Linked DNA regions of Homo sapiens. The protein of the gene in region 1 purifies or fractionates together with the protein of each later gene. This does not show direct contact. Each region holds a gene or a part of one and is shown on either strand. Other genes may lie near its edges. The genes, in order: HMMR and MAPK1.

Evidence for each region.
Region 2: the proteins of HMMR (region 1) and MAPK1 purify together in Homo sapiens (affinity purification with mass spectrometry; 4 studies listed by BioGRID and IntAct, with this or other methods). This does not show direct contact.

The regions. Positions count from the first base shown.
Region 1 is NC_000005.10:163,477,321-163,481,141, forward strand, and holds part of HMMR (hyaluronan mediated motility receptor), read left to right. Parts: intron 1-1,363; coding exon 1,364-1,480; intron 1,481-3,821. UniProt on the Homo sapiens protein: Receptor for hyaluronic acid (HA). Involved in cell motility. When hyaluronan binds to HMMR, the phosphorylation of a number of proteins, including PTK2/FAK1 occurs.
Region 2 is NC_000022.11:21,860,922-21,864,742, forward strand, and holds part of MAPK1 (mitogen-activated protein kinase 1), read right to left. Parts: intron 1-3,821. UniProt on the Homo sapiens protein: Serine/threonine kinase which acts as an essential component of the MAP kinase signal transduction pathway. MAPK1/ERK2 and MAPK3/ERK1 are the 2 MAPKs which play an important role in the MAPK/ERK cascade.

The DNA.
Region 1 (3,821 bases):
CTGATCATTAAAACACTTGTTGTCAAAGGACTGTGGGCTAGATATGAGTTTGTATTATTGTAATATATCTCACACCTGTGTATCTGTCTCAGTGGATACTTTTGTTATTAATCTTTTCTGTTTTCTTATGATTAGTGATGCAAATGAACAGCAAGGTTTTTCATATCCCTGCTTTTGGGGGAACAATACAAAATTGTAATTAGGGGTGTTGTTCTATACTACAGCCAATCTCAGGGAACAGGAATCTTGGGAAAATAAGATAATGTCATTTTAAGAGAGGAAAGAAAATTGAGATAATTTTTTATTCCAACTCAAAAAACTGTGGTCCAATGGTCAAGAGATAAGGATTTTTATTACTAATTCTGTTAGCTAGCTGGTTGATTCTGAGCAAAACAATCTTAGTTTCTTTGATCTTCTACTTCATTAGATATAAAAGAGTTTTATTAGATGGTCTCTAAGATCCCTTCTAGCCTGGAAATTTCAAGCTTAAGAGAAAAACAAACTAAGAATTGAAAATAATTCCTCTAGGGGACAGGGAAGAAAATATTTTTATTATAAACTCTTTAGTCATATTTGATTGCTCTTGCTGTGGTGTGTATATTTTTGAAATCCGGCACTTGTTACAGAATGAATTTGATCAGCTATTTTTCTTATCTCAGTGTCCAACTTAGTCTATAAGTACACAATGCTTATTTACAATTTTTAGTTCTGTATATTCTTTAAAAGATCTCTCATAAGCTCATATGCATATCTAAAAATTTTATCACCACTTTGGAAATATATTATTTCCAAAATATCCCTGAGATTTAATAGCATATGTATATAAAAATGACTTAAAACCCATTCTGTCTATGCAAAATAATCCATTAAAGAAGTTATTAAGTCTTTCAGTAATAGAGTATTATGTGGGTTATTCATATAATCAGAATAAATCCACAAAGTCTTGTAACTCTGTAGTTTAAAATGAAGTGGCTTTAATTGTTCATGGTATTTCTCAAGTGTCTAAATGGAGAGAATGAAACTTTATTCAATCCAGATGTTTTTTGACTGGTAATCTTTTGCAGTCTTTAGTCCTGGCTAGTATCTTAAGATTTGGTTTTATAGTCTTTTATATCCTACTACCTTCTTCACCCAAATTTTTAAAGTAAAATAAGCAGGAAAGATAAGTTGAAGCTAGTAGAAAAATGCATAAAAAACATGCTTTCGAGGTAAGTCATAAATTAGGATCTGAGCTATTTAGCAGGTAATGCAGTGGTGAAGATATGAGCTATATGATTCACAGTTTCAAAGGTAAATACTATTTTCTTTCTTAGGGTAGTAATTGTAGGTGGCATTTTATCTTTCAATTATTTCTTTTTCTTAGGAAGGAGGCTGAACTGGAGAAAAGTAGTGCTGCTCATACCCAGGCCACCCTGCTTTTGCAGGAAAAGTATGACAGTATGGTGCAAAGCCTTGAAGATGTTACTGCTCAATTTGAAAGGTATTTTTCTTGGGAGCCTGCACTCTTAAATATGATGTGTGCAGAAAGGGGTGTTTACCCCAGGAAATATGTGAGCAAAGCAGTCACACAAAGGATGATTCATACTAGTTTAAATTCCATAATCACCAACCGTAAGTGGGCATTTAGCATTATCTGGTAATCTTATTGTATTTATATAATTCCCCTTTATAATTTATAGAAATTCCCCTTTCTCACCATCCACTTCAACTTTTATGTGCTGAGCCAGGTGCGGCAGCATATGCCTGTAGTCCTAGCCACTGCATAAGCTGAGGTGGGAGGATCAAGTCATGTACTTAGAAGCATTTGGTGCTTCTGCCCTACTCTCTTGATGTTATCATTTTCATAAAGAATTCAGAAGTTTTTATCTCTTGCTAAACCTATAAAGAGACCCACATTTATACTCATCCTATCTTCCCACCTATTACAGATGAAATGTCCTAGTCTTTTAATCTTCAGTGACCTCATTCTATCATTTTGTTTTCTCATAATTTGAAACCTTTTTACTGGAATTTTTCCAATCAATATTAAAACATGTTAATGTACATCTGTCTGTAAAATATATTAATTAGCTGGCCACTGTGGCTCATACCAGTAATCCCAGTGCTTTGGGAGACCAAGGCAGGAGGATTGCTTGAGGTCAGGAGTTTGAGACCAGCCTGGGCAATAGAGTAAGACCTTGTTTCTACAAAAAAAAATATTAAGAATTAGCCAGGCATTGTGGCACATGCTACTTGGGAGGCTGAGGGCAGGAGGATCACCTGAGCCCAGGAGTTCCAGGCTGCACTGAGCTAAGATCACACCACTGCGCTCCAGCCTGGGTGACAGAGCAAGACTGTCTCAAAAACAAACGAAAAATAAATAAAATACATAAGTTGTTTTAAATACTTCTCTGACCCTAACTTCCTTTTGTAGCTGTCTCACACCACCAGTCATTCCCTTCTTAACCCCAAATTCTACTCCTTTTCAGTCCTTTTCCTTCTCCTCCTTTTTCTTCTCTTGACAGAGAAGATTGTCTCTATATCCACTTCCTCACCTCCCATGCCTTCTACTTATTTTCTCCTTAAATAAAAAGTTTATTTTGGGTGGAACTACAAATTACAAAGGCCAATATAATGAATACCTATATATTAATGTTAACATTTTTATTTATCACATTTACTTTAGCTCATTTTGGGGGAGAGTTTCCTTTCTTTTATTTAATAAATACAAAAGAATGCATAACATGTACATAAACTGTAGAGCTTGAAGATAAAACTGACATGCATGAACCTATAAAAGACAACCAGTAAGCCAAAAGATTTTCAACAACTTAGTATCCATATGTAAGTTCCTCTGCCATCCCATGAAAATGGGACAGATAACACTGTCCTGAAGTCTACACTAATTATTTCCTTGCTTTTTCCCCCCTGTGTATTATAATTTTATGACACGTATATCCATACAAATAATGCATTATGTAATTTTCCTTCTCCTTGAACTTTACCAAAAAATGTCATCATAGTATATGCCGTTTCCTGGGACTTATTTTTTCATTCTGCATTATGTGTGTTTTCAGGATTGAATTGTGTTGTCTGAGGCTATGGTTTGTTGATAGTCACTGCTATGAGTATTTTATTGTATGAATATACCACAACTTATTTATTCATTCTTTGGACTTTGAGTTGTTTCCCATTTGGTTAGTTATTATTAGTTATTTTGTGACTATAAGAATACATGTATGTAAGAATTTCTCTAAAGCCAAAGGTATATGAATGTTCAACTCTAAAACTTAATATCAAATCACTTTCCAATGTGGGAGTAAGAATCTACACTCCCACTAGTGTTGTATAAGTTTCCATTTATCTTCTTTGCCAAAGCTTGTTAGACTTCTTAAACTTTGCCAGTGTACTTAGTGTAAAATGGCTTCTTATTGTGGATAATTCATCTTTCCTTTTCCATAAAATGCTTGTTTATGACTTTTGTTTATTTGTCTATAGGGTTATCATCTTTTCCTCATTGATTTGTAGAGGTTTTCTTTATCAGCCATATGGGTTACAGGTATCTTCTGCCAGTTTAGCTTATTTTTTTATTTTCTTTTTGGTTTCTTCTGATGAGTGGAAATTCTTGATTTCAATATGGTTAAAATATTTATCTGTATGTGGGTACTTTTGCTTCTCATTTAAGAACTTCTTTCTATCTCAAGGTGTAAAGATATTCAACCAGTTTTCTTCTAAAAGTCTTAAAATTTCACTTTCCATTTTTCCACCTAGAACTGATTTCTGTGTGTGTAGCAATATAGGGATCAAATTCATTTTTTGTTTTCCCTATGGACAACCAACTG
Region 2 (3,821 bases), on another chromosome or scaffold:
CTTGGCAGGATGATTCTCCAGTGGAGGGAGTGTACCGTGCAATCCAGACCATTTAGCATGTCTGCCCTTGACATGCCTACTGACGGCCAATAACACCCCCTAATCAACGTGACAACACAACAAAAAGCCGCCCCCCTATACATTTCCAAATGCCTCTGTAGCAGGGAGGTAAAATCACCCCCACTGAGTACCACGAGATAAAGTAGGCACAATGCGGCCAGGTGCAATGGCTCACGCCTGTAATCCCAGCACTTTGGGAGGCCGAGGCAGGTGGATCACCTGAGGTCAGGAGTTTGAGACCAGCCTGGACAACATGGCGAAATCCTGTCTCTACTAAAAATACAAAAATTAGCCAGGCATGGTAGCACACACCTGTAATCCCAGCCACTCAGGAGGCTGAGGCAGAATTGCTTGAACCCAGGAGGCAAGGTTGCAGTGAGCCTCCAAGCAAAACTCTGTCTCAAAAAAAAAGTAAGTAAGTAGGCAAAATGGGCAGAAAGCATAAGAGATAAAGTGGGAGTGGAACTGGCAGACAGAAACAGGGCCATCCTTTAATGACTCCGTCACCCACAAGATCAAGTCCAAAGTCCTTACCAAATAATGCCCTTCAGGATTTGGCCCTGCCTACCCCCAGCTGTCTCAACTCCCACCTTCTTACTAAGGCACCCTACACTCCAGCCTTCCCAAGTAATTTGTGGTTTTCCTGACCTGATGCACTGTGTTCACGGTCTGTGCCTTTACATGCACACTTCGCTTTGCCTAGAAGGCATTTCTCAAGGCAAACTCCTACTCACACATCAACACCTAGCTCAGAAGTCTGGGAAGCCAAAGAAAGACAGCCCCAAGTCACTCAGCTCTTCTCTTCCTCTCAGCACTTCACAAACTCCTGGGTAACACTGGTATCTTCTCTGTATTATTCCCCAATTCCATCCCATTATTTGGATGAAGAGTTCAATAAACATTTTCTGAGTAAATAACTCTACATGAAAGGTTTTAAAGGCTAAAAAGTGATACAAGCAAAAGCAGACAACAGATATTTCTTGTTACTGAAATAATCTATTTTCTCAACTCTGATCTTTGGTGGAGCACTACTTAGGAACCAGAAAAACTGGGGTTGCTTCATCACTTCCTAGCTGTGTGTCATTGGGCAAGTTAACTAACCTCTGTGTGCCTCAAGTTTCTTCACTTGTGGGGTAAAAAACAAACAGAAGTTACCACTTTTGCTGTACAGTTATATGGCTTAGCATTAATGTATGTAAAATACAAAACAAGAGTGCTGAAAAAGTGGTAGTTCTACTAGTCTGCTATAATCACAATAACCTTAACAAGACAGGAGGACATTGTACCATCAGGAATGTGATCACAATGAAATTTTAGTTGAAACCATCCCCCTCTTTTTTCTTTTATTCATTCAGCTTTCCCAAGTTGAACATCCCCGCTTTAAAAAAAAAAAAAAAGAGGCCAGGCACAGTGGTTCACACTGTAATCCTAGCACTTTGGGAGGCTGAAGCAGGGGGATCACCTGAGGTCAGGAGTTTGAGACCAGCCTGGCCAACATGGCAATACCCCGTCTCTACTAAAAATAAAAAAATTAGCCGGGTGTGGTGGCACACACCTGTAATCCTAGCTACTCGGGAGGCTGAGGCAAGAGAATCACTTGAACCCAGGAGGCGGAGGTTGCAGTGAGCCGAGATTGTGCAACTGCACTCCAGCCTGGGCGACAGAACAAGACTCTGTCTCAAAAAAAAAAAGAGCTGAAAGTCAACAAATATAATGGCTTGTCAGCTGCATTCTGTTTCCCTCCTATAGTACTCAATACCAATCCCTTAATGAGTACCATCTCCCTTGGCTCCTTTGATAACGTGCACTCCCAGTTCTTTGGTCTCTCTGGCCACATTTCCTCTGTCCTCTTCCATAACTTGACCTTTATTGACACAGTAAAGGCAGGCACTCCTTTGGCTTAGTTCTCAGATGTCTTATCCACTCTTAAGGCTTCAATTAATATCTCTATGAAGATGACCCCATGAGCTCTCTTGTCGCATTCAGAAACAGCATTTCAAACTCAATTAAACCAAAATAGACACTTGCTATCTTAGTCTAAGATGACCAAGCATACTAAGAGTGTTTCAATCTCTCCTCCTCTCCCTCCTCCCCGTCTACACTGTTCCCTTATACATCTGACCAGTCATCAGTTTCCTCTTCTTTGCCAGAGTTACCTGGTTGGTCCTCTGTTCTACTTCAGTGGTTCTTAATGTTTCCAGGATAATGGACTCATTTGAAAATCTATCAAATGCTATGTATTTTTTAACCAAAAAGATAAATATAGAAAACATATAATTACAATTTCTTTTTTTTTTTTTTTTGAGACCCAGTCTTGCTCTGTCACCCAGGCTGGAGTACAGTGGCGCGATCTTGGCTCACTGCAAGCTCTGCCTCCCGGGTTCACACCATTCTCCTGCCTCAGCCTCCCCAGCAGCTGAGACTACAGGCGCACACCGCCACGGCCGGCTACTTTTTTTTTTTGTATTTTTAGTAGAGATAGGGTTTCACCATGTTAGCCAGGATGGTCTCGATCTCCTAACCTCGTGATCCGCCCACCTGGGCCTCCCAAAGTGCTGGGATTATAGGCGTGAGCCACCGCGCCTGGCCATGATTGCAATTTCACCTAACCAATGACCCAGATAAGAATCTGTGCTCATCCACTCAAGATTTTAACTACCATTTACACAAATTTTCATCTCCAGCTCCTGCTCCCCTCTTACAAATTTTAAGATGGTTTCTGGATATAGCCTGAATGGCCTACAGGCATTACAAACTTAAGTTCAAACCAGAACTATTTCCCCCTGACAAATCTGCTCTAACAGTATTCCTTTACTTGGATAATGGCACCACCATCTCCCAGGCTCCCAACCTAGAGGCCTCAGAATGAACAACCGCCCATAGCCAATCAACCAGCAAGCCTTGTTCTATCTCAGAAATCCCTCCAAATCCAAATCCCACCTCTCTTGGTCTCTTACCCTTTAAGGTCTCATAATCCTTTGATTCCACTCAGACTTGCCATGATTAAAAGTCTTTTTACCACTCTTCCCACAAGGGTCCCTGTTACTATTTCTGTCAATACAAAACTCCTCACCTCCATCTGCTACCTTCCGCTGCCACTTTATTACTGCACCTCTAGGTGGTTAGGCTTTCCTAATTTATTCCTCCACTCCGGTTCTTCTTCCTTCATTCCCACTAGTGTTGATTTGTCTTCCCAAAAAATTTCAAAATTGACCATGTATGACTGCCTCTTTCAAAAAAAGGCCGGGCACGGTGACTAAAGCCTGTAATCACAGCACTTTGGGAGGCTGAAGTCAGGGGGACCACCTGAGGTCAGGAGTTTGAGACCATCTTGGCCAACATGGCAAAACGCTGTCTCTACAAAAATACAAAAAAAAAATTAGCTGAGCATGGTGGCACGCGCCTGTAGTCCCAGCTACTCAGGAGGCTGAGGCAGGAGAATCGCTTGAACCTAGGAGGCAGAGGTTGCAGTGAGCCGAGGTCATGCCACTGCACTACAGCCTAGGCAACAAGAGTGAGACTCCACCTCAAAAAAAAAAATAAACAAATAAATAAATAAATAAGATGCTTCCTCCACTGAACAAATATACAGTCAAACTTAGTTTTGCCTTTGGAGTCCTCTACAGTTTGCCACCTAAGTACATTTCCAAGATTAGATTCCACAGCTCAAGCTGTCACTTGTTCCTATTATCTGCATATCAAAATCACACCCACTCTTAAAGGCCCAACTCAAATCCCACTCTTCATCTTTACATCCTCTA